Linked DNA regions of Homo sapiens: region 2 is linked to region 1. The links come from fine-mapping of genetic effects on gene expression. Tissue or cell type: whole blood. Region 1 holds a variant in brackets; the other region holds the start of a gene. All regions are shown on one strand. Distances are from middle to middle.

Region 1 (2,678 bases):
GACGTGGGAGAGTGAGACGTCCCAGTGACGGTGTGTAACACACAAAGACAGAGGCAGTACCACCAGAACCCCAAGGACCATCCACAAGGAAAAAGGAGAGAAGAAAGCCCATGGAGACTAAGCAGCAGCAGCAGCAAGGAAACTACAGTGTGCCAGACGGATCGCACCTAGAAACGCTGCCAGCACCCAAGACTTGGAGTAAAGAGAAAGCACAAGTGTCCCCAGCAAAGGGATGGTCAGAGGAAGAAGCCCAAGCCTCAGTCAAAGAGGGCAGTTATGCGAGAACCTCTGGGGGCCTTCAGATGGTGCCATGGACCAAAGGCACAAGCAGAGGCCCAGACGCGGGAGGGCCCTGTGGGAGGCAGAGTCACTGGGAAACCAGTGTCCAGTGCACCTCAAAGCACAGAATGGTTGAGCTCAGGGGAGGCCTAGACTGCGGCAATCCAGGCGGCAGTGGGTGCAGCCTTGGCCTGGGACAGAGGGTTGGGCTCGGGGTGTGCTGTCAGGAGGCAAGTAGGAATGACCACACCCAAACAGTGAGCCAAAGGCAGAATGAACTCTGGTCTTCTGGCCCCTAGCTTAATAATGTCCTGTCATGTTGCATGGTAGTAGTCAGGCCGTGCGTCCCCAGCCAAAAAATGAATCGGCATTCTTGGAAAAGAACTGAGTTATGACAGGTGCTGCACGCACCCCGTGGGCACTTCGGCCGGCAGATGCCTTCTCCTCCTGTTCAGATCCCTGGAATAGTTCCAAGCAACTGCAGTCAGTGCCATCAGAGGCGCCTCAAACTGTACCGAAGACCCTAGCAAGGCGAGTTGGAGGAAACATGAGTCAAAACCAACACAGCTGCCAGCGGCTTGGCTCCCTGTCTGAACGTTTTCACTTCTCAGAAACTTTCATGCAATTAATTTATAAGAGAAGAAAAAAAAAAGAAGCCAAGGCATGTGACTGCTGCAGACCCATGGCACAGCAGAGCCCAGCATGCCAGGTGCCGTCACACAGGGTCCTGTTTGGGGGCAGCGCAGCACAGTGGCTGAGGGGGGCTCTGTGCCTCCAGGGTTCCAATCCCAGCTCTGCTGCCTGCCTGCCATGGACTCTGGGGATATTACTCCACCTCACTGCACTTGGCTTTTCCTGAGGAAAGCTGGGATGATGACAGTGCTGCCTCACGGAACAGCTACAGAGTGGAACTAGACGATCTGTGGCAAGTGCTGGGGAGTGAGCCTGGAACACCAGAAGGACTCAAATCTCAGTTGCCAGTCCTACAATTGTGATGATCATTTAAAAGCCAGGATCCAGAACAAAACCAGTGCCACCGCGCAGCAGCCAGCCTGCACCTCATGAACACTCATGCATCTGTGTGGCCCCGGTCAGTTCCTCTACTCACCTGGGGCGTGCCC[AG/A]GGCCAGCTGCACCAGCCCTGCAGACCCCATGGGGAAGCAAGGGGTCTGTCTCAGCCTTCACGCCCAGGCCTCCAGGACACAGCTAGGGCAGGCTGGCTCCATCAACAGTGTGATACATGGACAAGGGCACACAAGGGAGGGGCAAGGCACAACGCCTCTGAAAATGGGAGTGGTTAGAGTCTGCATGACATCGGAGGATAAGAATCAGAGACACCAAAAACCACTGAGAAAACCAACAGAGAAAGGTTCCCGGGTAGAGGCATTGGAGGAGACGCCTCTCCCACCAACGGGGCAGGAGCGGGAGGTGCCACGGAGGAGGCTAGCTGTGTAGGCTGAGGGACAGGGAACTGGAGGGTTTCCATCTGAACACTTCTCCTTCCAGTAGTCCAAAGCGAGACCACAGGCTAATAGAAAATGTGGTGGGACCAGGGAGAGATTTTAGGAATATGAAGGAGGGCTGAAATAACCATTGCCTAGAATATAAAAAAGAAGCTAACCCCAAGGAAATACAGAAGCCTTAATTAGAAAAATTTCCATATTATTAAATATGCATTAAGAGTCAGTGTGTGTAAAGGTTAAGAAAATAGACTCTGGATCCACCAGCCTGGGTTACATCCCAATTCCATTACTGAATACCTGTGTGACCTTGGGCCAGTTGCTTAGCCTCTCTGAACCTCAGCTTCCTCATCTGTAAATTAAGAGTAATAATAGTCCCTGCCTCAGAAAGTTTCCATCTTTGGTTAGATTAAATACAAAGAGATTAGAATAGTGTCTAGCAAACAATAAATGCAACAAGAGTTTCCAGGAATAATAATAATTATTATTTTTAATATCAGGCAACCTTAAGAAGAAGATAAATTTCTCCTTCAATTTTTATTCTTTAGCAAGTTGAAGTCCTTATCTCTCTGCCTGTCTGAATGTGTATCTTACTAGGAAGGCCTAATTCATACTCTATGTTCTCTGTGAAGTTTCCCTTGACCAACACTGGCCTTCCTCTTCTTAATTCCTGGAATACTAATCATCTACACCTCCCATGTGCCATTTCGCACACACACACCACCTACAAATCTTGCTAGTTTTATAGTTCAATGCCTTGCTTTCGTAGCTGGATTGAGAGTGGTGATCTTACTGTGTCTCTGCCCACACTCACAAGGTCTATTGCAATGTCAATACAACATGGGCATCTGATGCAGCTCACACAGATTGATAGATACCAACCACAAAGACATTTGATAACCATAACTCACCTGATGATTAAATTGTCCTCACCAAGGGT
Region 2 (2,685 bases), 200 kb after region 1:
TACTATAGTGACCTGTAAAAATTCCAGTTTGTATTACTGTTTATCACAGAATTACCAGGAAATCCTAGAAATAATTTCTTCATATAACCAAATCAGTCATACACATTGTCTTCGAAACAATGTTTTTCCAAGATCGATGAGGTCTTTTGAGTGTATATAGATGTGAAAGAAACAAGTCCTTTACTACTATTCTAACACCTGGTATTACACGGTTTAACATGGAAGCCAAGTTTCCCCATGATCTTATTCTTCGTTTCTTCGGGGCTTTATTCTATGCAATGGAGAGTAACTGAAAATTAAGAGCAACCAGACTTCTTAGCTGAAAACCACATTTGATATTTTCTGCCCACATTTGCCTGTTACTCAATATTACACCCATATGATCATTACAAGACCTGAATACACTCTGGACATGGCAAAAGTATATCGGCCCCTTCGCATGCCTGCAACAATACTTTTAAAAACCTAATAAAGTGATTTGCAAATACCCAGAAGTGGGATCACCAGTGAGATACGGGCTAAGTTCAGAAAGGTCCCTGAAACCACCTTTACAGATGTATAAGTAATGCGAGAAATCTAACATGACTGACTCCATCTTGCTTCTAACCTCACGGGCTAAGTTTTCACCGTGTTGTCGTTTTCTTATTCTAGCACAGAGGCTAGGATAACTGGGAGAGGGATTTCGTGTAAACTTCAAGACAAGGGAAACTGACCCCACCCCTTCCTGGGAACCAACGAAGCCGCCCCGAGTTTCAGAAGCTCTTGTGATTTCATCCCCAGCCGGTCAACTGTTTCAGTTCCCCAGCCCCCCGAAGCCAAAATGCCCTTTAAAACCCTCGCCCCCGAATTCTCGGGGAGACAGGTCTGAGACCCTGTTCTGGTTTGGCCAGCCCTGCGCTTATTAACTTCTTTTTTTGCTGCAACAGCGGTTCTCACTGGTTCTTTCCGGGCAGCGAGCGAGAAGAATCCGTTGAGCCGGGGCCGGCGCCCGCGGGGCAACTGCACCGCGGGGGAGCCCAGTCGCCCCGCTCACCCGTGAGGGCCCTTTCTCCTGGAAAAGCCGCTCCGCCCTGCTGACCCCCACGGCACCGCGCGCCCAGACCCCAAGGCGGCGAGGGACTTGCGGGTTTGCGGCGAGTGGTCCAGACCGCGGGGCGGAAGTGAGGGGCGCGGCCGCGCGTCCGGGGCGCGTCTACCCCTCGCTCCCACTCGGCTCCGCGCCGCGACCACGCGCCGCCCTCCTCGTTCTAGAGGCAGCCCGCCAGGGCGGGGACCACTCACCCGCTTCCCCGGCGACCCTAGTCCACTCCTTGGCCTGGCAACCGGCGGCTTCCGCGGGGCGGGCCCGGCGGGTCGTCTCTCGGGTTGCGGGTGAAGGAAGCCGCCTGGGTCTGGCGGGAGGCACTGTTCTTGGAGTAGCCGGGCCTACGAAGAGCACGTTTTAAAGCTGTTGTTCCACGTTGCGGTGGAACAGTGCTGTTAACATTGAGGGAAATTGTCCCCGACTAACTGAGTTCTGTCTGCAGGTTAAGTGAAAGCCTATGTAGATAAATTTCACGGGCACAGCACTCAGTGCTAGCTAGAACTTACTAGCTATGTGACCTTGGGCAATTGTGGAAGGCGGGATAATGCTTCCGCCTCAGGATGTCCACATCCTACTCCCTGGAACCTGTGCGTTTGTTCTCTTGCTTGGCAGAGGGGGTTAAGATTGCAGATGGAATTAAGGTTGCTTATCAGCGGACTTTAAAATAAGGTGACGATCTTGGAGTGTGTGCTTGGGTAATTACAAAGTAATTACAAGGGTTCTCTAAAGTGGAAGGGGCCCAAAAAGAAGGTCAGTATGAGAAAGCTATTTGAAGGTGGAGGAAGGGGCAACAGCCAAGGAATGCAGCTGGCCTCAAGAAGCTGGAAGAGGAGCAGGCACAGTGTCTCATGTTTGCAATCCCAGTGCTTTGGAAGGCAGAGGCAGGAGAGGAACACTTTAGCCCAGGAGTTCGAGATCAGCCTGGGCAACATAGTGAGACACTCGTCTCTACGAAAAATTAACTAGACATAGCGACGGGCACTGTGGTCCCAGCTGCTCGGGGGATTGGGGCAGGAGGATCACTAGAGCTGGAGAGGGCTCATGATCCCACCACTGCAGTCCAGCTTTGGTGACAGAGCAAGAACCTGTCTCCAAAAAAAAAAAAAAATATATATATATATATATATATATATATAAAGGAGGAGGTGGGAGGTGGAAAAGGAGGAGAAGCTAGAAAAGGAGGGAAAAACAAAAAACAAAAACCAAATTGTTCCCCAGAGCTTCCAGAAGTAACAGTCCAGCTGACCCCTTGATTTTTTTGTTTTTTGAAACAGGGTCTTGCTATGTTGCCAAGACTGGTTTTGAGCTCCCGGGCTCAAGCGATCCGCCCACCTCAGCCTCCTGAGTGGCTGGGACTACAGGAAAACCACCATGCACACTGACGCCTTGATTTTAACCCAGTGAGCTGTATTTCTGAACTTCAGAACTGTAAGGTAATAAATTCGTGTCGTTTTAGCCACTTAGGTTGTCACAGTTTGTTACAGAAGCCTTAGGAAACTAATACAGCAGAGTAACTAAATCCCTCTGTATAAAAGTATAGAACCTACCTCATAGGATTACTGTGAACAACATCTGGTTACCCTTTACTTGTAAGCGCTGAA

What was found. PIP is the estimated chance that this variant, and not a neighbour inherited with it, causes the effect.
Region 2: NEK3 starts here. The variant in region 1 is fine-mapped to the expression of NEK3 in whole blood (TOPMed, PIP above 0.99).

What each region holds. Positions count from the first base shown.
Region 1 is chr13:51,954,867-51,957,544 of GRCh38, forward strand. It overlaps ATP7B (ATPase copper transporting beta), which reads right to left. Exons shown (of 21, transcript NM_000053.4): 9 at 2,650-2,678. Among named protein-coding and RNA genes, the nearest start is that of ATP7B, 55 kb to the right of the region's middle. The variant AG/A (reference allele first, on the strand shown) is at 1,401.
Region 2 is chr13:52,158,262-52,160,946 of GRCh38, forward strand. It overlaps NEK3 (NIMA related kinase 3), which reads right to left and starts at 1,336. Exons shown (of 16, transcript NM_002498.3): 1 at 1,282-1,336. RefSeq lists silencers at 1,023-1,132, 1,213-1,272.